Linked DNA regions of Homo sapiens. The protein of the gene in region 6 interacts with the protein of the main gene of each other region in a biochemical or structural test. Each region holds a gene or a part of one and is shown on either strand. Other genes may lie near its edges.

Region 1 (4,312 bases), on a different chromosome or scaffold from region 6:
GGCTGGTCTTGTACTCCTGACCTCAGGTGATCCGCCCGCCTTGGCCTCCCAAAGTGCTGGGATTACAGGCGTGAGCCACCGTACCCGGATGAAGATCTGTCTTAAAAAAAAAAAAAGGCCGGGCGCCCCCATGGCTCATGCCTGTAATCCCAGCACTTTGGGAGGCCAAGGCAGGCGGATCACAAGGTCAGGAGATCGAGACCACCCTGGCTAACACGGTGAAACCCCGTCTCTACTAAAAATACAAAAAATTAGCTGGGCGAGGTGGCGGGCACCTGTAGTCCCAGCTACTAGGGAGGCTGAGGCAGGAGAATGGCGTGAACCCAGGGGGCGGAGCCTGCAGTGAGCCAAGATTGTGCCACTGCACTCCAGCCTGGGCAACAGAGCAAGACTCCATCTCAAAACAAAAAAATAAATAAATAAATTTTTTTGGCCAGGTGCAGTGGCTCACGTCTGTAATCCCAGCACTTTGGGAGGCCGAGGTGGGCAGATCACACAGTCAGGAGATGAAGACCATCCTGGCTAACAAGGTGAAACCCTGTCTCTATTAAAAATAGAAAAACTTAGCCGGGCGTGGTGGCACACGCCTGTAGTCCCAGCTACTCGGGAGACTGAGGCAGAATTGCTTGAACCCAGGAGGTGGAGGTTGCAGTGAGCCAAGAATGTGCCACTGCACTCCAGCCTGGGAAACACAGACTGACTTTGTCTCAGAAAAAAAAAAAATTTTTTTTTTTTTCATTTTCTCTTTTTATGGCCAGTAAAATATTCCCACATAATTTTTAAATTTTTGTAGAGATCGGCTCTCGCTTTCTTGCTGAGGCTGGTCTCAAACTCCTGGGCTGAAGTGATCCTCCTATCTTGGCCTCCCAAAGTGCTGGGATTATATGCATCCAGCTCTGAGTCTTAAATCCTAAAAAAAAAAATTAACCTTTGCCGGGCATGGTGGCTCACGCTGGTAATCCCAGCACTTTAGGAGGCCGAGGCGGGCAGATCACGAGGTCAGGAGATCGAGACCATCCTGGGTAACACAGTGAAACCCTGTCTCTACTAAAAATAAAAAAAGATAGCTGGGTGTGGTGACAGGTGCCTGTAGTCCCAGCTACTCGGGAGGCTGAGGCAGGAGAATGGCGTGAACCCAGGAGGTGGAGTTTGCAGTGAGCCAAGATTGCGCCACTGCACTCCAGCCTGGGCAACAGAGTCAGACTCGGTCTCAAAAAAAAAAAAAATTAATCTTCTTCCTCTTATCTCCAAATCTATTAATTTTTCTTTATATTTGTAAGAAACTGGCTGGGTCAACTCACCTTCCTTCACTGTCTTTACAGTAGGGGCAGGTGCATGCTTCCCGCCGGGTCCTCCGACCGGCTTGGGGTTGGGCATCTGGGCTGTTTTCTCCTTCCTCTCCACCTGCTGTGTCATCATGTATTCCATCACCACCAGCCCCATGGAGACCAAGCTGAGCTCCATGATCACCTGAAATTAAGAGAGAAAAGGGTCAACATGTGACATGGGCAGGTTATCACTGGCATCTCAGTGATACCCTACAGTCACAACATCATTTCTTTTGAACTGACATCCTACATTCACAGTATCACAAGTTTTGAAGCCTTTTTATGTTTAGCCATTCCATTCACTGACACCTGAAGACTCACTGAAATCTCAAGAATCATCATTGAAAATACCAAGAGTGGCTGGGCGCAGTGGTTCACGCCTGTAATTCCATCACTTTGGGAGGCCGAGGTGGGCGGATCACCTGAGGTCAGGAGTTCAAGACCAGTCTGACCAATACGGAGAAATCCCGTCTCTACTAAAAATACAAAATTAGCTGGGAATGGTACGCATGCCTGTAATCCCAGCTCCTTGGAAGGCTGAGCCAGGAGAATTGCTTGAACCCGGGAGGCGGAGGTTGCAGTTAGCGAGACTGCACCATTGTACTCCAGCCTGGGTGACAGAGCAAGACTCTGTCTCAAAAAAAAAAAAAAAAAAAAAAAAGAAAGAAAATACCAAGAGCCAATAAATACGTAAAAATCTGATCAAATCTCATAGTTGTTTTTTTTTATTATTATACTTTAAGTTTTACGGTACATGTGCACAACGTGTAGGTTACATATGTATACATGTGCCATACTGATGTGCTGCACCCATTAACTCGTCATTTAGCATTAGGTATATCTCCTAATGCTATCCCTCCCCCGATCATAGTTTTTAAAATGCAACTCCACTTATAACGCATTTGTAATTTTTCACCTATCAGATTACCAAAAGTTGAAACCCTAATAACATACGGCATTGGTAAGGGTACAGGAAAACAGACCCTCCCTCTCTCTCTTCCTTCCCTCCCTCCCTCCTTCCCTCCTTCCTTCTCTCTCTCTCTCTTTTCTTTCCTTTCTTTTTTTGAGACAGAGTCTCGCTGGCTCTGGAGTACAGTGGCATTATCTGGGCTCACTGCAACCTCCATCTCCTGGGTTCAAGTGATTCTCCTGCCTTAGCCTCCCAAGTAGCTGCAACTACAGGTATATGCCACCATGACTGGCTAACTTTTTTGTATTTTTAGGAGAGATGGGGTTTCACCATGTTGGTCAGGCTGTCTCGAACTCCTGACCTTAGGTGATCCACCCGCCTCGGCCTTCGAAAGTGCTGGGATTACGGGTGGGCATGAGCCACCATGTCCAGCCGGAAAGAGACATTTTCATACACAAATAGTGATAAATTAATACAACTTTTTGAAGGCCAGTTTGAAAATATTTAAATGTACATCTAATTTGAACCAGCAATGCCCATATATTTACATGTGGTTCTGCCTGTAACCTCAGCACTTTGGAAGGCTGAGGCAGGAGAACTGCTTGAGATTAGGAGTTCAAGACCAGCCTGGGCAACATAGGGACACTCTGTCTATAAAATAAATAATAGGCTGGGCATGGTAGCTCACGCCTGTAATCCCAGCACTTTGGGAGGCCGAGGTGGTTGGATCACTTGAGGTCAGGAGTTCAATACCAGCCTGGCCAACATGGTAAAACCCCCATCTCTACTAAAAATACAAAAACAAAACAAAAAAAATCAGCTGGGTATGGTGGAGTACGCTTGTAATCCTAGCTATTCGGGAGGCTGAGACAGGAATTGCTTGAACCCAGGAGGCAGAGGTTGCAGTGAGCCGAGACTGTGCCACTGCACTCCAGCCTGGCCGACAGAGCGAGACTTCGTCGCCAAATAATAATAATAATTAGCTGGGCATGGTGGCATGCGCCTATGGTCCCAGCTACTCAGGAGGCTAAGGTGGGAGGAAGATTGCTTGAGCCAAGGTGTTTAAGGCTACAGTGAGCTATGATCACATCACTGCACACCAGCCTGGCCAACAGAACAAGATTCCAACTCAAAAAAATATATATAAATAAACAGTGTATGCTAAAATGCTTTAGACTCTCATCATGACTCAGTTGGTCACATTTGACATTTTCAAACACAGCTCTAGGCCACTGGTAAAAAGTGACAGATAATATTCTTTTTTTTTTTTTTTTGAGACTGAGTTACACTCTTGTTGCCCAGGCTGGAGTGCAATGGCACAATCTTGACTCATTGCAACCTCCGCCTCCTGGGTTCAAGCGATTTTCCTGCCTCAGCCTCCTGAGTAGCTGGGATTACAGGCACCCACCACCACCCCTGGCTACTTTTTGTATTTTGTTGTATTTTTTTAGTAGAGATGGGGTTTCACCATCTTCGACAGGCTGGTCTCGAACTCCTGACCTTGTGATCCGCCCGCCTTGGCCTCCCAAAGTGCTGATTACAGGCGTGAGTCACCGCACCCGGCTGATAATATTCTTCGCAAAAGTAATATCTTATAAAGTGGCAGATAATATTCTTCTCAAGACTTCTTTCCTTTTTTTTTTTTTGAGACGGAGTCTCGCTCTGTCGCCCAGGCTGAAGTGCAGTAGCGCGATCTCGGCTCACTGCAAGCTCCGCCTCCCAGGTTCACGCCATTCTCCTGCCTCAGCCTCCCTAGTAGGTGGGACTACAGGCGCCCGTCACCACGCCCGGCTAACTTTTTGTATTTTTAGTAGAGACGGGGTTTCACTGTGTTAGCCAGGATGGTCTTGGTCTCCTGACCTCATGATCCGCCCGCCTCGGCCTCCCAAAGTGCTGGGATTACAGGCGTGAGCCACCGTGCCCGGCCTTTCCTTTTTTTAAGGAGACCGGGTCTCACCATGTTGTCCAGGCTGATCTCGAGCTCCTGGGCTCAAGTGATCCTCCCGCCTCAGCCCCCCAAAATGTTCTGTTGTGATTATAGACATTAGCTACTGCTGCCTAGCCTTTCTCAAAT
Region 2 (4,312 bases), on a different chromosome or scaffold from region 6:
TGGTTATTATGGTTTCTGCTAGAAAGAATTCTGACAGCTCATAAAAGCAATATGTATAATTTTTCATTTTTTAGAAGAAAATAAATACTTTCATGTAATGGCTTGAGACTCTGAATTGCTCCAATTCCTGAAGATTATTTATTAATCATTTAGTCTTTTAATATATTTGAGTGTGGGTTCCCTGGCAGAGGAGGGAGTTCAGAAGAGACCCTGATTTCCCCCCCAAAAGGAAGCCACAAATCTCTTAGAGCCCTAGTGCATTGGGGCAGCCAGGTTTTAATGGCCTTTGGTGGTTATCAGCCCGTCTTGCCTCTGCTCTTTATCTGATAGTGACCCCATGGCCCAACCCTGTTGGGTCCCCTCTCAATGCGGGTGCCCTAAAGAGTCATCGCTGAGTCCATTTAGGCAAAGGGTTAGAATGATTTAAAAGTAAAATGGTCTCCCAAACCCAAATCTAAGTAAACGGAGGGAGGGAAAAAAGAGTCAAGCAAGCCACCACGTTCCTTCGTTCCTTCTCCTCATTTCCACCCCCACTAAAAAACAAAACAAACAAAAAAAACTGCTTTTAGAAAAGTGAGTGGAAAAAGAGGCCAATCTATAGACACAGCCAACTGCAAATTTCGTTTTGTTTTAGAAATCACAATCTAAGTGTGGAAACTGTATAAAGCTTAAAAATAACCGCAACAATACTTTTTTAAAAAGTGAATATTCGTCGTTGTAATAAGATCAAGACCCAGCTGAGGCTTGGAACTATAAAAAGCTTATATTAAATTAATCTCCCTTTAAAGGGGACAATTATTTAAACTTTTTTTTTAGTAGCTTATCTTTACACTTGGAACCACCTGCCTTGATTCGCCCTTTAAACGAACAGGAAATGACCCGCACTGATTTTACTTAGTCGCATCTTTTCAAACCCACCAAAGACAAAACAGAATCTCCACTGCAGAAATTAAATTCCTACTGCTTGCTGCTAGTGTAGTAGGGTGATTGTTTAGAAACGCCTGGGGTTGTTTTCATACCCCTGTTGAAGGTCAAGGTTTTTAAAGGCAGCTCAAAGCTTTGGGGATGATCAGGGGTGAAAAGTGAAGGGAGATCTTTGGAGCCGCCGCGCTGAAGTCTCCGGCTACGCGCCGCCCCCTCCTCTAGCAGGAAAGCGGGCCGCTGGGACCCCTGGCTCTCCGAAAACAGCCTCGTCACCTTTCGCTACCCCTGGCTTAATCTAGGTGAGCTGATGATAGCATTCAGAACGGTTCCGGGAAAAGAAACAGGATTCGATACTTGCGGCTTCTGGCAGGAGCAGGCTAAAAAGCTCAGAGAACTCTTCAGAAAACTTTTGCAAACTTAACTACGCCCGCTGTGGACTTTGGACATGCTAATTCCTATAGGGCGGTTAGAGAAGGGGAAAAAAAATCCCTGACAGTTTCCCTAGTTAGTTTCTTTTCACTGACTTGAAGGCAGAAAAGTCTTACTATTTTATTTCCTGATCCTTTCATCTGAGGAAGACAAAATGGTTTGGGTGTTAATCCAGCGGTAGGGGCAGCAGTAAGTTAGCAGACGGGCTGTCTCTGCCGGGCTGGGTTATAACTTTTCCTACTTTGTATCAAAGCTAAGGCCCCTGCCAGGGAGGTCCCGACCGGCTCCCAGTGGATATCTTTGGGGACACCCTGATGTTTTCAGCCCTCCTGGGAGGCCGCCCCAGAAAGCTGAGACGAGTGCCTCCCGAGGGTCGCCACGGCAACACAGCATCCCCCACATCCCAAGCTAGGAAGACCGACCCGGGGCTGCGGGGGCCCCTTTCCAGAATCCGGCCCCGCCCGCCTGGCCGCTGCCCTCGCGGATCTCCCCCGGCCTCGCCGGCCTCCGCCTGTCCTCCCACCACCCTCTCCGGGCCAGTACCTTGAAAGCGATGGGCAGGGTCTTGTTGCAGCGCCAGTGCGTAGGCAGCACGGAGCAGAGGAAGTTGGGGCTGTCGGTGCGCACCAGCTCGCCCGGGTGGTCGGCCAGCACCTCCACCATGCTGCGGTCGCCGCTCCTCAGCTTGCCGGCCAGGGCAGCGCCGGCGTCCGGGGCGCCCAGCGGCAACGCCTCGCTCATCTTGCCTGGGCTCAGCGCGGTGGAAGGCGGCGTGAAGCGGCGGCTCGTGCTGGCATCTACGGGGATACGCATCACAACAAGCCGATTGAGTTAGGACCCTGCAAACAGCTCCTACCAGACGGCGACAGGGGCGCGGATCTTCAGCAAGCAGCTCCCGGGAGACCAACATACACGTTCAGGGGCCTTTATTACTGCGGGGGGTGGGGGGGGGCGGGGGTGGTTAGGGGAGGAGGGAGACTAAGTTACTAACAGTCCAGGAGGGGAAAACGTTCTGGTTCTGCGGATCGGCCTCTGACCCAGGATGGGCTCCTAGCAACCGATTGCTTAGTGCATTAAAAAGTGGAGACTATCTTCCACGAATCTTGCTTGCAGAGGTTAAGTTCTGTCTTTGGCTGTTAGAAAAGTTCCTGAAGGCAAAATTCTCATACACTTCCTAAAATATTTATGCGAAGAGTAAAACGATCAGCAAACACATTATTTGGAAGTTCCAGTAGTTAATGCCTGTCAGTTTTTTGCAGGTGAGTTTTGTCTAAAGTCCCAACAGAACACAATTATCTCCCGTAACAAGGCCACTTTTATCATGCAAAACTGGCTTCAGTCCCGAAAAGCAAGAGCTGAGACTTCCAAAGGTAGTGCTACTAATGTATGTGCACGTATATATAAATATATACATATGCTCTACTTCATAAAATATTTACAATACAATCTGTGGAGAATTTAAACACAACAGAAATCCATTAATGTACGCTGCAGATTTTTTTAAGTAGCCTTGAAAATCAGCTTCAGTAGTTGGAGCAGTGCTGAGCTAGAAGTACTTGTCATGTTCTCTGTTCTCTCAATGAATTCTGTCAAAACGCTCAGTGCAGAAAATTCAGCGTTTCAGAGATCTTCAGCTAATCTTAAAACAACAATCATAAGAAGGCCCAGTCGATGACACTCAGGGTTCTACAGCTCTCCCACATCTGTGAACTCGGGTTTGGGGATGTTGGTTAAGTTTGTGGCTGGTCCTCTGGTTTGTTGGGAGTTGAGCAGCCGCAGAGTCACACACATGCAAACACGCACTCTTCGGAAGGCAGCCACTGTCTACATCAGCTGGGTGACTCAGCCCTGACTCGGGCAGCAGCGAGACGATACTCCTCCACCGTCGCCCAGCACCCGCCGGTTAGCTGCTCCGAGGCACGAACACCCACGAGCGCCGCGTAACCGCAGCAGGTGGAGCGGGCCTTGAGGGAGGGCTCCGCGGCGCAGATCGAAACAGATCGGGCGGCTCGGGTTACACACGCACGCACATCCTGCCACGCACACTGCCACGCACACGCAACTTCACGGCTCGCCTCGGACCACAGAGCACTTTCTCCCCCTGTTGTAAAAGGAAAACAATTGGGGAAAAGTTCGCAGCCAGGAAAGAAGTTGAAAACATCCAGCCAAGAAGCCAGTTAATTCAAAAGGAAGAAAGGGGAAAAACAAAAAAAAACAACAAAAAAAGGAAGGTCCAACGCAGGCCAAGGAGAAGCAGCAGAGGTTGACTTCCTTCTGGCGTCCCTAGGAGCCCCGGAAAGAAGTGCCTGGCGGCGCAGGGCCGGGCAGCGTGGTGCCCTGGCTGGGTCCGGCCGCGGGGCGCCCGTCCCGCCCGCGCCCGCTGGCTCTATGAATGAGAGTGCCTGGAAATGAACGTGCTTTTACTGTAAGCCCGGCCGGAGGAATTCCATTCCCTCAGCTCGTTTGCATAGGGGCGGCCGGCGGCCAATCACAGGCCTTTCCGGTATCAGCCAGGGCGCGGCTCGCCGCCGCCGGCTCCTGGAATTGGCCCGCGCGCCCCCGCCGCCGCGCCGCGCGCTACTGTACGCAGCCCGGGCGGGGAGTCGGAGGCCACCCCCGCGCCCCGCATCCAAGCCTGCATGCTGGCCCGGGGCCCCGCCCGCGTGCGGACCCCTTTCCGCAGCCACACGCAGGCTTGTGCGGCTCCGCGAGTGGCCACGGTCCGGAGACCTGGAAAAAGAAAGCAGGCCCCGCCGGCCCGAGGAGGACCCGGCCGGCGCGCCGCACCCGGAGAGGCCCGGCCCCGCGAGCCGCTGCAGGCAGGCGCAGTGGCCGCCACGAGGCTCCCGAACCGGGCTGCAGCCCGCGGACGGCCCCAGATCCTGCGCGGCCGCCCAGGGCCAGGCCTCCGCTTCCAGGGCGGGGGTGCGATTTGGCCGCGGGGCCCGGGGGAGCCACT
Region 3 (3,257 bases), on a different chromosome or scaffold from region 6:
AGATCACCTAATCTAATATACGGCACAGTACAGTCTTAACCTATTCCCAGCACTTAATCTGCAGATGTTTGGCCAGGCACGGTGGCTCACGCCTGTAATCCCAGCACTTTGAGGGGCCGAGGCAGGCGGATCACGAGGTCAGATCGAGACCATCCTGGCTAACACGGTGAAACCCCGTCTCTACTAAAAATACAAAAAAAAATAGCCAGACTTGGTGGCGGGCGCCTGTAGTCCCAGCTACTCGGGAGGCTGAGGTAGGATGGTGTGAACCAGGGAGGCGGGGCTTGCAGTGAGCAGAGATCGCGCCACTGCACTCCAGCCTGGGTGACAGAGCGAGACTCCGTCTCAAAAAATAAAAATAATAAAAAATAATTTGCGGATGTTCAAGTAAGTTCAACTGGCTGGGTGCGGTGGCTCACGCCTGTAATTCCAGCACTCTGGAAGGCCGAGGTGGGGGGATCACTTGAAGTCAAGAGTTTGAGACCAGCCTGGCCAACATGGGGAAACCCGGTCTCTACTAAAAATACAAAAATTAGCTGGGCATGGTGGCGGGTGCCTGTAATCCCAGCTAGCGGGAGGCTGAGGCTGGAGAATGGCTTGAACCCAGGAGGCGGAGGTTGCAGTAAGCCGATATAGCACCACTGCATTCCAGCCTGGCACACAAGAGCAAAACTCCACCTCAAAAAATAAAAAAGACAGGAATCCATATAATCATCAAAGGCTCTTTCAAAAAGGTGAGGGAGGGGCAGCACATCTGCAAGATGAAGTTCTGGAGATTGATGCACAATGAGAATATAGAGCAGTCTTCCTGCAGTACCAATGATTGGTTCCATGACCCCCTTCAAATACCAAAATCCCCAGATGCTTAAACTCCTTATACAAAATGGTAGAGTATTTATACCTAAGATAACCTAGGCACATCCTTAGACTTTCAATCTTCACTGGATTACTTTTAATACCTAATGTACATGCTACATAGCTGTTACAACTGCAGTGTACAAGAAAATAAGTGACAAGAAAATATAGTATTTTGAAAATAAGAAAAATAAGTCTACATGTTCAATACACACACAACCATCCTTTTTGATTATTTTTGACCCAAAGTTGGTTGAATCCACAGATGCAAATCCCTTGGACAGAGGGCTAACTCTGTCACTATAGAAGTGTACACTTAAATGGTTAAGATGACCAATTTATGAGTCAAAAAGGAAGGGGGGGTCAGATACTTGTCAGTGTACGCCCTACATAATTACCTCAAATATTAAGCCCTTACCATGTGCCAAGCAATATAAACACCATGTGCAGCTCAGTCTAATTGAGAAGAAAACCAAATCATCACAGCACCTGCTAAGCCATCTGTGGAGCCAGGGTTATCTCATCAGCCAGGCTGCATCACCAGGAAGCAGCCACCTGATAACAGCTTTCCCTGGAAGTCCCCTCTGTGATCAACCAGCATCTGATTTAACAACAGTCTCATGATTTTCAAGCCAACCTGTCCCTCACTAGTTTTGCCTGAAAAAATAGTGCCGAATTTCTTGTGAAGTACAGACACTGGTAGAAAATACTTCAAAACATTGATAGATAAAATCAGAGACAATTTAAATGTTCTTCACAGTTCTCCAGAACATAATAGCCTGTAGTACCAATGACTGGTTCCATGATCCCCTAAGAGAACACAACTTAGGAATGTGGATTCTAATGATAGCTTTATACTGCTTAGGCAAATTTACTTCTGAGCCTTATGTGCCTTCAGTGGTGCAAGCAAATTTCCTTTACACTTTAGAGAGGTTGATTAACGAGTACATATGTAAAGAACACTTAGAGCACAGCATGACACAAAATATAATGGCCATTTATATTCACTTTCTATGTGCAACGTGGATCGCCTTATGCATAGGAAAAACTCAAACATATCCCTCTTCTAAACCTACAATCCTGAACTACAGGACAACGAATCAAGGTGCTGCCTTGCTTGCTATCAGCCTTCTCTATCACACAAATATTATTTCTCTGGTTGGCTCTGCTTGGGTCTTACTGTTCTGGCCCTTGCAAATACCACAAGTATGGTTAAAACCAAGAAGATATGTAATGCTCCAGAGGCCAACATGCCCCTCAGTCTGAATACTGAACAGTCTAGTCAGACCTTGTGTCTTTGTACAAAATTTTATTAAAGGTCTTTAGAGAGCAACATCCAGACTCCAGAATACAGCTGCCAAGGAGACCCTGAAACCAAATAAAGCACAAAAGTAAGAAACTTTACCAGAGTTATTAAGTTCCTGATTTACCAAATGGATACACACTCCCACTTAGGGTTTGCAGCAACATTAATAAAATGCATACATAAGGGTTTGTCCTTTTTCATATAAAAAAAAAAAATACAAGGCACCTGGAGAGACAACACCTATAAACAAAAAAACCCCAAGTGTTGACCACAGGAGGCTTGTTAGTGTTTTACAGGGGCTGCTAAAGGACAGAATAGCAAAAGTGCCTAGAAAATCTTGAGCAGCCAAGCACAGTGGCTCACCTGAGGTCAGGAGTCTGAGACCAGCCTGGCCAACAAGGTGAAACCCCGTCTCTACTAAAAACACAAAAATTAGCTGGGCTTGGTGGCAGGTGCCTATAATCCCAGCTACTCGGGAGGCTGAGACAGGAGAATTGCTTGAACATGGGAGGCAGAGGTTGCACTGAGCCAAAAATTTTGAGCAAATAAGGGAGGATAAGGGAAAACTATTTCATATACACGAGTAAAAGCAGGAACTTCTTTCTGGAAAGAATAAAGGCAACACCTGTCCCATTGGAACCAAGGGTTAAATAGACCCCAGGTTTCAACTTGTATTCTCCCACATAAAGCAAATAAATGAAATTTTTATTCACCAAACGCTTACCAGAATGTGGGATACAAGTATTAACAGAAAGACTCGGAAGGACCCTATTATGCCCCAAGAGGCCCCTGCCCTTGCAGACATACCTGTTATGCTGTGGGGACTGGCTGGGGCATGGCAGGCGGCTCTGGCTTCCCACCCTTCTGTTCTGAGATGGGGGTGGTGGGCAGTATCTCATCTTTGGGTTCCACAATGCTCACGTGGTCAGGCAGGGGCTTCTTAGGGCCAATCTTACCAGTTGGGTCCCAGGGCAGCATGATCTTCACCTTGATGCCCAGCACACCTAGAGGACACCACAGTTGTTAGCACACAGCTGGGGTCTCAAAGGCCCCCATCACACAAGACCAAAGAGAGCAAGCAGTTTACTCAAGCACC
Region 4 (4,682 bases), on a different chromosome or scaffold from region 6:
CTTAATGGGAACCCGAGTTGTCTTTGAAAATAACCAAAACAAAGCCACCAGAATGTTGTGTTTTCAAATGACGAAACTTAAGAGAAATTGACACCATCAAAAGACGAACCTTGACCTTTTGAACTAACCTGACCCCCCATTGCTTCCCTTCCCCGCCTGTGCCACGGAGATAAGCCCAGAGAGAAGGCATCTGACACCGAGTCTTGCGCTCCCCCTCCCCCTTCCTCCCCTAATCATTTGGATTAATCCATCCCTTGGCGTGCGGGGGAAACCCATTAATTTGTCCTGGCTTCAGAGACTCCCAGGTCCAGTAGGAGCCCTCCCACACCCACGCAGCTACGATCCCGTCCCCAACATCAAAACCCTCGAACCCCTCCCCTTTACCCCTCCCCAGTAGCCCACTGTGTCTGCAAACAGCTCTTGGACCATACCGGGATGCGTTCATCATTTTGACCAGCAACAAACTCCCACTCCCAGGGTATTGTTTAAGTGAACAGTGACCGGCCTCTATGCTTAGGGAATAAAAGCGGGGTTGTGGGAGAGGGGCCCAGGGAGCAAACGTCGCAGAATCTCAGCCCAGGGCCGCTGCCAAGCGGACCCGGCACGTGAGTAGGAGGTCGGCCGCAGACAAGGGGTCCTAGGGTCTCTGAGGTCTCTCCTGCTGGCCTCTGGGCCCCTAAAGCCCCTCGAGCTTCAGAACTCCCTACAGACAGTGGCGCCCCGTGTCCGCCTCGTCTACACCTGCCAAGCAGCACGGGAAAATCTGTGTGCATTTTAACAAAGACATCGCATCTTCCCAGCAAAATGGCGGTGGTCGCGGCCACGGCTCTCTAAACAACTCCACACTTTCCGAGGACAGGTCACAACCCAAGGGACATAACCCCCTCCTCGACCTCTACCCTAGCGCCCCGCTTTCCCAAGTCCCCAAAGCACTCAGGGCCTCTCCTCATTACAGGGGCCCCCCGGACCGTCCCTGGTTAGAGCTTCTGGGGCAGCTTCTCCATTGTGGACCGCCCTCCCCCGCCCCCACATTGCCTTCAAGGAGCCTTGGGACGGGGACTGAACCCCCAGGCTGGGCCTCACGGATGGGGGGCAGCGAGTTCTGTCTCTGACACCCCAAAACTTCCAGGCTAAGAGAAGCACACAAATGAATTCCCGATTAGGGTATATGGGAGATGTAGGGGTCTTTGAGGAGAAGAGGCCACCCGGGAGGCCCTCCTCATCTCTCAGAGGGTCCGGGCAGCACTGGGGGTTCGGCCTCAGGAGGGAACCTCAAGGCAGAGGTCGGGGGGCGCGCTGGGGGAGAGACGGCAGAGGAGGGGGAAGGGACAAAGTTTGAAAGTACCCTTCCAACTCTTTCAGGGAAAGTTTCCTTGGGGGCCCCATGGACAGAGGGGGTAGAGGTGTGGAGGGACCGGTGGCGGGGTGACCCCCGAGAGGTGACCGGACCCCGGGGGAGCGACCCCTCCCCCCTGTCCCGGCTCGGCCCGGCTGGGAGTCGCCCAGCTCGGGGCCGCGTGTGTTAGTTGGGGCCGCTTTCCGGCAGCTCCACCGGGCTAGGGGACCCCGCAGCGGGCCGGGAGCAGAGCCCCCGGTAGCCTCAGGGGAGAGCTTTGCTACGGGGGGTTTCCCGCACCGAGGCTCCCTAGCCCCGCAGAGCCAGCCCCCCGCAAAGGGGAAATGTGCCGGCACACCAGCGGTCCTCGGCGCCGTTTGGGGTGCGTGGCGGGCGCGGGGGGCGGCGGCCGGGCCAGCGGGCCGCCCGGCGGGGAAGCCCAGGGAGCCAGGCAGCGGCCCAGGGCGGCGGCGGGGAGCAGGAAGGCCCGGGCCGGGGGGAAAGGTCGGATTTGCTCGGCGGAAGAAACACAGATGGCGGCGGCGCAGCGCCATTCCGGGCCGGGAGCAGGCAGCCAGCAGCCCTGTCCTCACCGCGGTCCGCCCGCCGCCGCTAAATACCCGGATGCGCCGCCCAAGCGCCAGACGCGGAGCTGGGAAAAGGGAGGCAGAGGAGGCGGAGGCAGAGGCAGAGGCAGAGGCAGAGCCCGAGCCCGGTGCCGAGACCAAGCGACAGACCGGCGGGGCTGGGCCTCGCAAAGCCGGCTCGGCGAGCTCTCCCGACACCCGAGCCGGGGAGGAAAAGCAGCGACTCCTCGCTCGCATCCCCGGGAGCCGCACTCCAGACTGGCCCGGTAGTCAGGGGCTCAGGAGCAGATCCCGAGGCAGGCTTTGCTCAGCCTCCGACGAGGGCTGGCCCTTTGGAAGGCGCCTTCAACAGCCGGACCAGACAGGCCACCATGACCGAGAATTCCACGTCCGCCCCTGCGGCCAAGCCCAAGCGGGCCAAGGCCTCCAAGAAGTCCACAGACCACCCCAAGTATTCAGACATGATCGTGGCTGCCATCCAGGCCGAGAAGAACCGCGCTGGCTCCTCGCGCCAGTCCATTCAGAAGTATATCAAGAGCCACTACAAGGTGGGTGAGAACGCTGACTCGCAGATCAAGTTGTCCATCAAGCGCCTGGTCACCACCGGTGTCCTCAAGCAGACCAAAGGGGTGGGGGCCTCGGGGTCCTTCCGGCTAGCCAAGAGCGACGAACCCAAGAAGTCAGTGGCCTTCAAGAAGACCAAGAAGGAAATCAAGAAGGTAGCCACGCCAAAGAAGGCATCCAAGCCCAAGAAGGCTGCCTCCAAAGCCCCAACCAAGAAACCCAAAGCCACCCCGGTCAAGAAGGCCAAGAAGAAGCTGGCTGCCACGCCCAAGAAAGCCAAAAAACCCAAGACTGTCAAAGCCAAGCCGGTCAAGGCATCCAAGCCCAAAAAGGCCAAACCAGTGAAACCCAAAGCAAAGTCCAGTGCCAAGAGGGCCGGCAAGAAGAAGTGACAATGAAGTCTTTTCTTGCGGACACTCCCTCCTGTCTCCTATTTTCTGTAAATAATTTTCTCCTTTTTTCTCTCTTGATGCTCACCACCACCTTTTGCCCCCTTCTGTTCTGACTTTATAAGAGACAGGATTTGGATTCTTCAGAAATTACAGAATAATTCATTTTTCCTTAACCAGTTGTGCAAGGACAGCAACAACCAATCTAATGATGAGAATGTACTTATATTTTGTTTTGCTATTAACCTACTTACGGGGTTAGGGATTTGCGGGGGGGGCTTGTGTGTTTTGTTGGCTTGTTTGCCATGAAGGTAGATGTGGGTGGGGAGAAGACACAAGGCAGTTTGTTCTGGCTAGATGAGAGGGAACCCAGGAATTGTGAGGTTAGCAGGAATATCTTTAGGGTGAGTGAGTTTTCTTTGAGTTGGGCACCCGTTGTGAGAGTTTCAGAACCTTTGGCCAGCAGGAGAGAGGTGGTAGGGAGCAGCCAGCCGGCAAAGGAAGGAGGGGGAAAAAAACCGCCACCGGGCTGACTTCCACCTCCCAGTGGTGAGCAGTGGGGGCCCAAACCCAGTTTCCTTCTCATTTTTGTTAGTTTGCGCTTTCGGCCTCCCTATTTTCTTAGGGAAGGGGAGTGGGGTCCAAGTGACAGCTGGATGGGAGAAGCCATAGTTTCTCCCAGTCAGCTAGGATGTAGCCATTGGGGGATCTTTGTGGCTTCAGCAAATTCTCTTGTTAAACCGGAGTGAAAACTTCAGGGGAAGGGTGGGGAGTCAGCCAAGTGCCTCAGTGTGCCCTGTTGAAACTTAGGTTTTTCCACGCAATCGATGGATTGTGTCCTAGGAAGACTTTTCTTTTCCTCTGGATTTTTGTTCCTCCTGTACAAGAGGTGTCTTTGCTTGGTTTGGTGGGGCTGCGGCCACTTAAAACCTCCCGATCTCTTTTTGAGTCCTTTATTATAAGTAGTTGTAGCTGCGGGAGGGGGAGGGGGAGTGGGCGGGCAGTGGATAGTAAGACTTACTGCAGTCGATTTGGGATTTGCTAAGTAGTTTTACAGAGCTAGATCTGTGTGCATGTGTGTGTTTGTGTATATATACATATCTAGGGCTAGTACTTAGTTTCACACCCGGGAGCTGGGAGAAAAAACCTGTACAGTTGTCTTTCTCTTATTTTTAATAAAATAGAAAAATCGCGCACTTGCGCGTCCCCCCCCCACCCCCTTTTTTAAACAAGTGTTACTTGTGCCGGGAAAATTTTGCTGTCTTTGTAATTTTAAAACTTTAAAATAAATTGGAAAAGGGAGAAACTGAGCGGTGTATTTTTCCTCACTTTGAAGACTGGAGAATGAATGCGGAGCGGTTAGGCGGGCAGGCAGTGGGGACATCTGGGGCGTTTGCACCTGAGAATGGCGGGGGAGGGTTCAGGAGCTGGACAGAAGCCAGGAATCCTTAGTCCCGGAGGCTGCGGAACGTGCCTTAGCCGGCTTCTAGGCTTCTGCCTTTGGGGTCCAGAGGGTACCCCATTTCCGGCCGAGAGGTGAGTACGTGGGAATGCGGTGGGGAGTCTGGTGGGCTTGGCCCTGACGCGACTTCCTCCGCCCCCTTCCCTCCCCTCTGCCATCCGGACTTCGGCAGTCTCAACTTACAAGTCAAGCCTCTCGGTCCCTGGCGGATCCCGCCAGGCCCCGCCCACCCGTCCTAGGCCCGCCTCCCCGCCTTTTTAAGCGAGCCCCCCTAGCTCCGATTGGCTGCTGGAGCCCGGCCCCCGGCCACGCGACCAGGCTGCGTCCGCGATGCGCACGGCTCC
Region 5 (4,312 bases), on a different chromosome or scaffold from region 6:
AATTAATCAGTTATTATTTGATAATTTGATTATTTGATAATAACCAGAGTTATTTGATAATTTTTAAGTTTTCTTATAATTTAGAAATACAGGGTGAATAGGCAAAATGTAAACAAAAATGGTAATTTCATATAAAAAAGTATCTGGTGTTTAAAAAACTTTGTATGCATCTCAAAATCATGATTAAAGTATAGTTTTGGCTTATTAAAGTGTTATATATGTCTTCTGATATTAAAATTTGTTTTAATTATCCAAGTAATCCTGAATCCATTCTCATGGGAAGAAAGATACTTAAGTCAATATTAAAATACTGAAATATGTGAAGAGTTAAAGGTGAAAGTCATTCTGTACAGTTCTACAAAATTCTGTTTCTCTGTTCAGAGCTACTGCTTATAGTTTAGTGTTTAATCTTGCACACCTTTTGCATGCATAAACCTTTACAACAATTTGTTTTACTTTTTTAAAAAAATAAATGGGGCTCTATTTTACAATGTGTCAATATATTAATTTTTTTTCATGGTTACAATTTTGTAATGGTTCTCTTAATGATGGATAATTGTTTTCAGGGGTTTTTTTGCTATGATTTAAAAAATTTTACAGTGAATACTGTTGAGCTACATCTCTGGATATTACTATCGATTATATGGTCAGTGCACTTGTGGCTTTATGAATATTTTAAATAATGTAGTCAAGTCTGTTGATCTTTTTCCTTGTCATCTGTGTTTTGTGGATTTTGGTATTTCCAAACTATATTCATTTCTACAGAGTTATTTTCATTTCCATTTTTTGAACTGTCACTTGTAAAACACTTTCTTTTTATAGAACCTTATGAGTGATAGCAAGATGTATTAGTATGTAATACATTGTGATGGAGTGTAATGATCACAAGGATCAGTGACAGTTTTGATGACCAATTTCAGAGTTATAAAATAAATGAAATATATTCTGGAAAAGTCATGGGCTTTTTGTGTTGTTTGTGGAATCACTAAAGGTAGTCCCTCACTATTAACAAATTTGTTTTGACACATAATATGTGAGGCACTGAATTATAATAGGCACTAGAAACATTGCCTATTTTCCTGAATCCTTTAGACAGGATTGCTTCCCCAGTTACCAGAGATTTCTCTAACCTTGATTTACAGTAGCTACTGCTGGTAGGAATTGCTCTCCACTCCACTTTTGCTGCCATCCAGTGTTACATTACCCTACAAATATACTAAGTGCTTAGCAAAGCAGAGTCCAAATGTAAGATCAATTTTTGTCTTACCCAGAATTTTACAATTAAAATATATAAATAAAAGATTTCTCTGTGTGTGGATGTATGTGTACAGTATAGTGTTGCATGCTATACATGGGGTGAGGTATCAGAATGCTTTTTCAGTGTTTGGCACCTCTAATTTGGCTCTGTGGCCATTTATTCCACCTTTCTACCTTGAAATTCCACAACTTGGGCTCTTGAAATTACCTGGTATGGTGCAATGCACGTGTATTCTCAGCTACTCCAGAGGCTGAGGCGGGAGGATCACTTGAGCCCAGGAGTTTGAGGTTGAGATTGAGATGAACTGTGAGAACATGCTACTGCACTCCAGTCTGGGCAACAGAGCAAGACCTCATCTCTAAAAAATTTTGGGCTTGAAACGGGCTGATTTTGTCCTACCACTAGTAATCACTTTTAGAAGTAGCTTACAATTGCTGTTTCTTCCTTCTTATGGGGGGAAATACCCTTATAGGAGGTATTATGAAGCCAATATCTAATAAACTCTGTCATCATTAGCTCACTTCCACTCTTCTGCCATCTCTCTGTACCTGATTAGTATAGTTTTGAAAAATTATAATTTTGCTACCACTGCACCTCTCCTTGTTAGTAGGGGAGATTTATGTAAGAGAAGAATCTTTTATTTCTAGACAAGGTAATATCCCATTGGGAAGAAACAGCCAAGGGAGAAGAAATGTTTTTTTCTTCTTTGAAGGGACTAGAACTTTTATAGCTCAGCAAATTTGAATAAGTTTGATGGTAATTCAGCTACATTATATTTTAGCTAGATTTCTGAGTTCATTTGGTAACCTAACCACCACATATATACCTATTTATAACTTGAAATTTGCCTTTAAAGTCACGAAAGCACAAAGCACTGTGGTGCTTGTAACACTCTTCCATATTATTATAGGTAACTAAATGACCATGGAATCTGGAGCCGAGAACCAGCAGAGTGGAGATGCAGCTGTAACAGAAGCTGAAAACCAACAAATGACAGTTCAAGCCCAGCCACAGATTGCCACATTAGCCCAGGTATAAAATACATGGAGAGATTCCAGTTTGTGTCTCTTCCTAGAGGAATACGTTTCCAAGAGAATTTAGTTGTTATTACATAGATATACATAGAATGAGCAGAGATACTCTTACAATATCAAAATTCCTATTTACTTAGTATTAGAGTATATTTAGAAATGATAGTATTAATTCAATAACAGTAAAATGTATTATTAAACAATAATACAGTATTTTTAGTGAAATGATCCAGAAATAATTACATTTTAAACTTATGGGTAAATGGTGCTCTCAGATAAGGGAAGAAAACCTTGGCTATGTATGACAACTGCTTTTTTTATTTTTTTAATATGACACAGATTTATTTTTTAACAGTGGGAATGCAGATAATATGAAAGCCTAAGTTTATATAACTAAACTAAAAATTAGGATAAGCAAATAAATTGACATGTAAGGAAATTTTAAGGATGATAGCAGTTTTTGTTTCCTGTATATTTTAAATATAATTTCTGATTCTTTCATTTCATCTTTCTCTTTAACATCCTATCTTTAAGAATATTTTCTCTCATTCTTATGTTTTTGTTTGCATGCATTCTCCTCAACTATTTTATTAACAGCTGTTTACATAGATAGGAATGAGAAAGGTGGTTAACTTAAAAAACAAATAGCAGATACAGACCTGCTAGGTAATAGTGTGATACCGTCTCTTTCAGATGAAGGTTCCCAGGAGAATATAATCCTAGCAGAAGCTCTGATATATGTAGCTTCAGTTTCTCCAAGAGTTTAAAAGTTCCTAGAGAAGTCACCTAGCAAGAATGAATCATGGGAAATAGAGGACTCACCACACTTGGGTGTCTGGCTGAGGTAGTGTGAGCCAGATACTGGATTTCCAGCAAGAATATAGTCAGAAGGAGTGAGCTGTTCTGTGTTTTCTCCTAAGACCACCAGGGTTTACCTCCAGCCTTCAGGAATAAGACAAAGCCAAATACATCTAATGTACTCATACGAGGCAGGCTGCAGGATTGAAGGGGAGAGAGCCAGGACTTCCATCAATATAGGGTCAACAGATAAGAATCTGGGCTCATCTGTATATTTTGCCCTTTAGAAAGAGGAAGACACAATGCTAGGCCGGGCGCTGTGGCTCACGCCTATAATCCAAACACTTTAGGAGGCTGAGGCGAGCGAATCACTTGAGGTCAGGAGTTCAAGACGAGCCTGGCCAACATGGTGAAACCCCATCTCTACTAAAAATACAAAAATTAACCAGGCGTGGTAGCACACACCTGTAAATCCAGCGACCTTAGAAGGCTGAGGGAGGAGAATTGCTTAAGTCCGGGAGGCAGAGGTTGCAGTGAACTGAGATTGCGCCACTGCATTCCAGCCGGGGTGACAGAACAAGATTCCCTCTCAAAAAAAAAAAGAAGATGCAATGCCAGCAGGCTTCTTTATGATGATAGCCCTTAACACATCTTATCTCTGGAGTCACACTATTTTGTCCAGTCTGGTTGTCCCCAGAGTAGGCTGTATTGTGTCATCCTGGGAATTCCTTTCTCCCTACTTCCATTTTCTCACAGTTTGTGTTTTTGATATGGTAAAGCATGTTTTTCAGTGGTTTTATGAGAAAGAAAGGTTGGCTGAGTAAAGATAGCATGTTATAAAAATTGAATGTATGGGCCGGGTGTGATGGCTCACACCTATAATCCCCACACTTTGGGAGGCCGAGGCAGGCGGATCACGAGGTTAGGAGATTGAGACCATCCTGGCTAACACAGTGAAGCCCGTCTCTACTAAAAATACAAAAAAATTAGCTGGGTGTGGTTATGGGCTCCTGTAGTCCCAGCTACTCGGGAGGCTGAGGCAGGAGAATGTCATGAACCCGAGACCGCACCACTGCACTCCAGCCTGGGTGACAGAGCGAGACTCCATCTCAAAAAGTAAATAAATACAAATAAAAATTGAATGTACATGTGCCTTAACATCTAGAAGATGTACAACAAAAATATTAAAAGTGATTAGCTATGGGTGATAGGAATATAAAGGGTT
Region 6 (4,110 bases):
CAGTCTCCTGTATGTTTGGAGTTCTATCATCTTAAAGAAAAATATATTTATACTTTAAGAAGGTCTCTTTTTATGCCAAACTAAAACCAACACAAATTCTCTGGGAATTTAAGAAACACACTACACAGCATTAGACATACTAATCACATATTTTTAATTCAGCAGCAAAATTTGTTTAGTAGAATGGGTATGAGGTATTTAAGTGATTTAAAAAAAAAATATATATATATATGTATACACACACACACCTCCAATCGAACACCACACTAACTTGTCACTCCTATTCCACTAAATTCCCTCCAGTATTCCCCCTTGTTTTTCACTATTTCTTGTCAAGTGGGGTCTTTGATCACATTAAAAATATAGTTGGGAATTTTCTTCTGGCAGAACCTATATAAACTGGATTCTATTAGCAAATTATTTTGTACCTGGAGAATCGAGAATGTTCTGCTGGAGTCGAGGAACAGGCGAAGGGATATACCCCTCATTTGTGCCATATATAGATCTAAACATTCCTTCAAGTACCACAGAAAGGGAAGGATTATATACATAAGTTATAATTTTAGAATAGCTTAAACATGTCTATATGACAGGTCATTTATACTTAGGGTAACTAAATAGAAATTTTATTTAAATTAGATTAAGTCAATTATTGTAACCAGTCTATAAAGTCTGGATAAAAATATTTATCATCCTAAAAACAATTGAAAGAGACTAAAACTAAAAATATATTATGAAGTTAGCATAATTCTGCAGCCCTAACCTCTGCCCCTCAACACACATGCAAGTTATCAATAGTGTCTTCAAAATACAAGTACTACTATAAGTGTTTAGTATCAGAAGACTGTAAGACTATGGGGGTGAGGCGAACGGTCATTAGGGATTCGGTAATTTCAATTCTCTTGAAATGTGAGCAAATTTGCGTTTATTAAGTAAAGAACATATGTTAATGCACACTGGTACTACAAGACAACTTAATGGTTGAATTTTAATAAATATTTAAATGTGTTCATATTACAGAAGTTGTAGCATTGTTAAATCATTCCATAAAATTTATTTTACTAAAACCACTCACCTTCTCCAATTTTCTCTATTTTGGTATAATCTTCCATAGTTAGTCAATGGGTATGGTAGATCCTAAAGTGAAGGAAAAACTGACTTAATTACATGCCACTAACTCGAGTAGTTTTAAGCATTAATGAAACACTATATGTAAAGCATTTTCCACAGTGCCTACTGCAGCATAAGTATTCCATAAATATTAATTACATTCAAACAATATTTACAAGGGTAAGGACTCCTACAATAACTTTCCATCCTTCTTGACTCCTGAGACATTGGAAACGTGTATATTCTATACTAGTGTAGTATTTAGCTTCTTCCAATCAAAATAACCCTCAAATTCAGGTATCAACTTGTCTATTCTTTCCAAACAAAAACCAGAATTATGTTCCCTTTTTGTGACACTTTAAAGTAGTACCTGCGTGTGCCAAAGTTATACCCAAATATTTCAACAAATTTATACCGCTTTATGATACTCCTAATTTTATTCAAAACATTATTTTTTAAAGTTATGAGGACAGAACTAAAATGTGTTCAGACTGTTCATTAGGAAAATTTTGTTTAAAACGACAAAAACATTTTAAGTGTTTACAGTTGCCCACGTGACAATTTTAATCTTTTTCCTCTGCTTGCTGAGGTCACAGACAAACATGCTCAAGACTTTCAAGGTACTTTTTCCAAGAGTAGGAAATATCACTTAAGCACCGTAAAACAAAAGAATGAAAAGTGCAATTCCACAGATAAAATTCTAATTATAACCTAAACAATGTCAAGGACTAAGCAGAAAAACGGTATACTTGAATCACAATGAATGGGTTAAAAAAAAAAGCTGACAACCAGAAGTTCAAGACTTCCTCTGAAGTTTGCCAATGAAACGTCAGAACTCCAGGCATAATTACCTAGATTTTTCTAACACCCATCACTGATGATAAAATCATTTATAAAGCACACTCAGAATAGACCTTTAAGTTCTATTTCTCACATTCATCTTCAAAGAAAAATCAATCCAGAAAGAAGCAGAGATGTATCTTTTTAAATGAAAAAAACTGCACTACACTGCTCATGAGAGTTAAGTGCCTGGGCTGACTGTTCTTAACAGCTCCAGGTGGGCCGGGGCCGTGGGCAGAGCAAGCCCAAGAAGGCCCACGAGTTCCAGGATCGGTTTCTCAGGGCGGCCTGGCTCTAGGGACCCGCGCCTGTACCTGGCCCAGGTGCGGTCCCACTTTCCCACCCCCGAGGCGGGATGGCAGGGCGCGCAGGGGCCGGGCCCAGGAAAGAGCCTGCTACTCCGCAGGCGCTCAGCGTGGGGGAGCGGATTTTGCTTCAATCAAGACCCGAAAGCCTCTTCAGGCAGTTCCTGAGAACAGCCGACCTCGACTCATGACTGCAGCCCCGAACCCCCACCCCCACGCCGCCTAACCCCGCCAGGCTGGGCTCCCATAGCCTCCCTCTAAAGCCAGCCCAGTGTGGCTCACACGGCCAGACCCAGGCGAAGGCCCTGCCCACCGCCCCCCGAGGCCCAGCCGGGCCCCGCGCAGATCCCTGACCTCCAGTCCGGCCTTCTTAGAGGACCCCGTTCCTCAATACTCGCCCTCCGAGGCCCTCGGCCGTCCCCTAGACACGACCCTGACCCCAGCCACTGTACCCGGCTTATTATTCCGCGGCGGCCGCAGCGGCAGCTACAACAACCGCGTCGCTCTCCGCTCAATTTCCAAGAGCCAGCTTTGAAGCCAAGTGCGAGCAGTTTCAAACTCACCGCGCTAAAGGGCCCCGGATTCACCAATCGGGTAGCCCGTAGACTTTCAAAGCAGCCAATCAGAGCCCAGCTACGCTGGGCAGGCCTTCCCGGGTGGCTAGAGCGCGAAAGAAAGAGGAAAGGGCGGCTAGAGAAAAAGCAGGAGGGCGGGCGCCAACTGAGTGCGAGCGCAAGCGCTCTCCTCCAGTCGGGAGAGTGTCGTCCTACTGTTTCTAGTCAGCGGAGCAGGAAGCTACTGTTCGCTCCGTTCTTCTTTTAAATTTTTTCTCCCAGCATTGGCACAGTTCAAATTTATTATACTCAAAATAGCTCATCAAAAAAGTGATATTGTGTTTACATCGAGATTCCATTACTTTCACTTCTAATACTTAGGGTTAGGAGTGTATAGTTATGTTTTTCTAAATGCGTGATTTGCGGGCTGGCTCCAAGGAGCACATTTCAGTGACCTTAAGAAGGAAATGGAAAACTCAAAAGACCGCCTCAAAAATGTAAAGGAAAATTTATTATTTATATCGCTGTGCTTTGTTTCTACCTCATTTTTGAATTTAATATTAAATTATTTTATTATTTACATTTTGTTTATTATACAATTAAAAACATTTGAAATGTATTAAATTTTAAAATATTTTCACATCAGAATTTTAAATATATAGAGAGAGGCATGCATTTAGAGACTGGGTCTCATTATGTTGCGCATGCTGGCCTCCAAATCCTGGGCTCAAGCAATCGGCCTCAGCCTCCAGCGCAGCTGCGACTACAGGCACTCGCCACCACGCCTGGCTTAAATATAATTAAAACACAAAAATTCACAATTCTATGAGGGGAGAGAAAGAGGCTTAAATTATGCTTTAAATAATCCAGTGTCAAAAACTCTGTCTTCATTGCCATCCATCATATCCTTGAGAGAGATTTCTGCACTTACTGCAGTTAATTTTTTTTTCCTTTTTCTTGTTCTTTCCTTCTTTCTCTCTTTCTTTCTTACTTTTTTTTTTTCTGTTTGTTTGCGGAGACAATGTCTCCTTATGTTGCCCTAGCTGGTCTCCAACTCCTAGGCTCCAGCAATCCTCCTGCCTTGGCCTCCCAAAGTGCTGAGATTACAGGCGTGAGCCACCAGCCCAACCTAAACACCATTCTAAAATCTTTTTAAAATAAACAAATAGAACAGTAAAACAGAGCTAGACATAATAAAAATCCATTTTAAGGATTTCTGGTTGCATTGATCCTAATGGGACATAGAACAAAGACTGATTACCACATCCACTACAAGTATGTATTAGAAGACCCAAATCAGG
Region 7 (3,430 bases), on a different chromosome or scaffold from region 6:
TGCTGTCACCTGGCTCCCCCTGCTGGGTGCTGGGTCTCCATTTCTCCCTCCACCCACCCTCAGCAGCATCTGCTTCCCATGCCCTCACCATCACCTCACTGCCCCCAGGCCTTCTGCCCTTTGTGGGTGTTGAGCTCACCGCCCACCCACAGGCACTCATGGGAAGAGGCTTTCCTTCTGGGATGGGGGCGGCTGGTAGACACCTTTGCTTTCTCTAGCCCTCCTGGGCTGGGCTTGGGCACAAATCCCCAGGCAGGCTTTGGAGTTGTTTCCATGGTGATGGGGCCAGATGTATAGTATTCAGTATATATTTTGTAAATAAAATGTTTTGTGGCTAGGGGTTTTGATTTCATCAAGAGGCTTAAAATGACCTTCCCCGGAGGTGATTCCAGTGCTATTTCCCCTCCCTTCCTGCAGCCTGAAGGATGGGGGCCAGAACACAAGTGTCACCCATCCTACCTGCCCCAGGCTTTAGGGGCACACACCACAGGAGACTCCAGTCCAGAAAAGGATATTTTTTTTATTCAAGTAACTGCAAATAGGAAACCAGAGAGGGAGCCCCAGGCTGGGACAAATCATGGCTACCCCTCCCCAACAGAACAGGGGGAGGAGGTGGCCCCTACACCCTTTATGGTCGATTTGGGCCCCCTTGCTCACTCTGCTGCAGCATCCTAGGGGCAGGGCCCCACCTTCCCTGGGACTGGGGTAGTCGGTCACCCAGCCTGCCATGCCCCAGCCCCTCTTCCCCACAAAGAGTATCTTGGGGGAGGGGATCGTGGGCAGAACAGGAGGCAATGAGGATGAACATTTGGCGCTGGTAGCAGCAGCAATGACGGATGTCGAAGAATGGAACATTGAACAAAAAACAACACAACTGTCCAGAGGTAGTTTGTGAACAGAGGAAAAATGGAACCAGAACCTTGGGGGGCAGGGAGGAGCAGGAGGGGGGTTGGGAGCGGGCAGGGTGAGCTCCTTGTTATTGGTGCCCCATCTGAGGAGGGGGAAATGGCTGAGTGGCGGAAGCAAAGTAGGGTTAGGGGAGCAGCCCCAGCCCACCTCAGGTGGCGGCCACAGGGCTCTTGGGCCTCACCTGGACAATAAGTGACTGCATCTCCATCACCACAATATGTACTCAGATCCCAGGCGGAGGGCAAGGGGGCTGTGGCCACAGTGAAGAGGGAGTAGGGGACTCACCCCTCCTGCCTTCCTGTAACCGAAGGGGGCTGTCCAACCTAGTACGGGGACTAGGGAAGTTGGGGAAGGATGAAAAGTGAGCCCCACGTGGTGACAAAGACAGTTTGGCTGGGGGAATCCTGGGGGCCAGCACCCCCCTCCATTGGCCACACCTGCTGCTGCCAGGGCAGTGGAGTAGGGCGTGCCAGGATGAGATGGGGCTTGGGCCCCTTTTAAGGCCAGGGGAACCCTCCCAGGCCCCACTATGGGAAGCCAGAGGGAACAGTGAAGGAGCAGAGAGGGCGCCCCCAAACCAAAAGCCCAGAGAGCAATGTCCCCACCACCAAGGGAGTGGGGACGCAGCAGGTGCAGGGTGCGGCTAAGTGGGATGTTAGCCTTGTCCAGGAGGGCATGTGTGTATGCGTGGGTGGGCGGGGGGAGCTGGGAACTGAGGCCAGGGGAAAACTGCTCCCCACTCAGCCCATGGGAGCCCTGCAGCGGCTGGTGTGCTGTGTAGTGTGGTGGTGAGGGCACAGGTGGAAGATGGGGGTGGCGGCCAGAGGCGGTGGTGATGGTGGGCCTGGGGAAGGGGTGGGGGCGGTGGGAGCGGAGCAAAGCTGTCCAGTCCCAGAAGGAAGCTGCTCCTCCAGTGAGGAGCAGGCGGCACGCATGGGTCACTGCTCCTCCTCCGAGGACTCCTGCGAGATGCCCTCCTCTTCCTCCTTCTCCTGTGAGGTGGGCAGTTGTTGGTGTGAGCTCTGGCCCGGTCCCCCTCTTCCACCCCCAGAGGCTGGCCCCACCCGCTCCCTGCACTCCCTGGCTCTCCTGAAGAGGGATGAGTCAGGGCTGAGTGTGTGGGTGACTCAGCAACCTCCACGGCCCGGCTTCATTCATAAAAAGAATTTAAAAGGAGGAAAAAACCCCACACACATGCTGCTCTCACCCAGAGCCAGGAGCCAAGCCCCCTTGGCCCCCAGGCCCAGGGAGGGCAGGAGGGCAGAGCTCAGGGCAGCAATGAGCTTCAGGATGTGACTGACTCCCTAGGGGAGAAGAGGAGGTGGGGGAAGAGGTGGCTGGGGGAGGAAATGGGAAGGGGTGGCTGGAAGGTGCAAGAGCCCGCTGGTGGGTGCAGGGGAACCAGGTCCTTGGCCCACAGGGGCAGATGCTGTGCTGTGGTGCCCTGGCCCTCCGGGGTGGCCGAGGGCTGACCCTAGGCCGGGGTGGGGAGGAAGGGGAAGTGTGTGCCGCCGGGGCTCACTCACTGGGCGGGAATGTCGGGACACCACACGGGGCTACAGCCCCCGTGCCAGGCACAAACTCCAAAACAACTTGTTTCCTGTTACTCACTCTTGGGGCCTGGCCAGCAGCACCCCCTAACCCCCCCACCCCAGCAGTGGCTCAGCTCAAGGAATGACAGCTTCAGGGATTTGAGGGGGCAGGCTGGGGGTAGGAGAGGGCCAGGAGCTGGAAGGCTGGGGTGACCCTAACTGCAGTGGCCCCCTAGAGGCAGCTTCTTGACTCAGCCCACCGAGCCTTTCCACCAGCTGTTTGGGGACCCAGAATTGGATGGTGCCCTCCAGTGCAGTGTGGTGGGTCACATCAGAACTCCAGCACCGACCCCTCCCAGGGCCCAGCTCCTTCGCTGTTTCTCTTCTGCAGAGGCTCATAGGAAGGACAAACCTTCCCCCTATGGCTTCCTTTCCTCATCTCTAATTGAGGGGGACACAGGCTAGATGACTTCCAAGATCTCCCCTAGAAGTTCTGAGTATTCTAGGAGCAGGAGAGGGAGGGACCCCCACACACAACTAGGGCAGGGCAGGGCAGGGGGATGTGGTCTGATTTATACCTGGGACCCCTCACTTCTCATGGGCACAGCCCAGGCCAGGTACCTTCCCCTCTCTGGACTTCTGTAAAATCTGATGTCCCAGCAGGTCAAGGAGAGCCTTTCCATAGGGGGTGCATAGCATCAGGTACTGTGTACTCAACACCCTCAACTCAAAAGAGCCCAGGAGGCAAGCAGCAGTCTGCTTCTTCACCTACCAGTTTTTTGGGTCTGCCCCTTGGTTTCCTTCCTGGAGTTGTGGTGGTTTTCTAGAGGGTTAGAGAAAATATCTCCTAAGTCCAAAATGCTCATCAGTGCTCACCCGATGCCCAATAGTGATGGGGGGCAGACCTACCTGCCTGTTCAGGGTGACCCAACACTCTCACCCAACAGGCCCACCCAAGTCCAGCTGGCAATGACTGGCCAGCCACATTT

The links.
Region 1: of the proteins of CDK1 (region 6) and SP1, one has a biochemical effect on the other in vitro, tested with the Homo sapiens proteins (2 studies listed by BioGRID).
Region 2: of the proteins of CDK1 (region 6) and RUNX1, one has a biochemical effect on the other in vitro, tested with the Homo sapiens proteins (2 studies listed by BioGRID).
Region 3: of the proteins of CDK1 (region 6) and RPS3, one has a biochemical effect on the other in vitro, tested with the Homo sapiens proteins (2 studies listed by BioGRID, with this or other methods).
Region 4: of the proteins of CDK1 (region 6) and H1-0, one has a biochemical effect on the other in vitro, tested with the Homo sapiens proteins (3 studies listed by BioGRID).
Region 5: of the proteins of CDK1 (region 6) and CREB1, one has a biochemical effect on the other in vitro, tested with the Homo sapiens proteins (2 studies listed by BioGRID).
Region 7: of the proteins of CDK1 (region 6) and HMGA1, one has a biochemical effect on the other in vitro, tested with the Homo sapiens proteins (3 studies listed by BioGRID and IntAct).

Annotation. Positions count from the first base shown.
Region 1 is NC_000012.12:53,403,743-53,408,054, reverse strand, and holds part of SP1 (transcription factor Sp1), read right to left. Parts: intron 1,471-4,312; coding exon 1,302-1,470; intron 1-1,301. UniProt on the Homo sapiens protein: Transcription factor that can activate or repress transcription in response to physiological and pathological stimuli.
Region 2 is NC_000021.9:34,884,947-34,889,258, forward strand, and holds part of RUNX1 (runt-related transcription factor 1), read right to left. Parts: coding exon of another isoform or gene 3,860-4,312; exon of another isoform or gene 2,167-3,859; coding exon of another isoform or gene 2,151-2,166; coding exon 1,897-2,150; intron 107-1,896; exon of another isoform or gene 1-106.
Region 3 is NC_000011.10:75,404,580-75,407,836, reverse strand, and holds the end of RPS3 (small ribosomal subunit protein uS3), read right to left. Parts: intron 3,166-3,257; coding exon 2,972-3,165; 3' UTR 2,969-2,971; intron 2,255-2,968; exon of another isoform or gene 2,224-2,254; 3' UTR 930-2,223; downstream 1-929. UniProt on the Homo sapiens protein: Component of the small ribosomal subunit. The ribosome is a large ribonucleoprotein complex responsible for the synthesis of proteins in the cell. Has endonuclease activity and plays a role in repair of damaged DNA.
Region 4 is NC_000022.11:37,803,251-37,807,932, forward strand, and holds H1-0 (histone H1.0), read left to right. Parts: upstream 1-1,978; 5' UTR 1,979-2,294; coding exon 2,295-2,879; 3' UTR 2,880-4,182; downstream 4,183-4,682. UniProt on the Homo sapiens protein: Histones H1 are necessary for the condensation of nucleosome chains into higher-order structures. The histones H1.0 are found in cells that are in terminal stages of differentiation or that have low rates of cell division.
Region 5 is NC_000002.12:207,553,460-207,557,771, forward strand, and holds part of CREB1 (cyclic AMP-responsive element-binding protein 1), read left to right. Parts: intron 1-2,168; 5' UTR 2,169-2,176; coding exon 2,177-2,290; intron 2,291-4,312.
Region 6 is NC_000010.11:60,777,168-60,781,277, reverse strand, and holds the start of CDK1 (cyclin-dependent kinase 1), read right to left. Parts: upstream 2,801-4,110; 5' UTR 2,708-2,800; exon of another isoform or gene 2,610-2,707; intron 1,138-2,609; 5' UTR 1,113-1,137; coding exon 1,076-1,112; intron 1-1,075. UniProt on the Homo sapiens protein: Plays a key role in the control of the eukaryotic cell cycle by modulating the centrosome cycle as well as mitotic onset; promotes G2-M transition via association with multiple interphase cyclins.
Region 7 is NC_000006.12:34,243,302-34,246,731, reverse strand, and holds the end of HMGA1 (high mobility group protein HMG-I/HMG-Y), read right to left. Parts: intron 3,265-3,430; coding exon 3,214-3,264; intron 1,902-3,213; coding exon 1,848-1,901; 3' UTR 501-1,847; downstream 1-500. UniProt on the Homo sapiens protein: HMG-I/Y bind preferentially to the minor groove of A+T rich regions in double-stranded DNA. It is suggested that these proteins could function in nucleosome phasing and in the 3'-end processing of mRNA transcripts.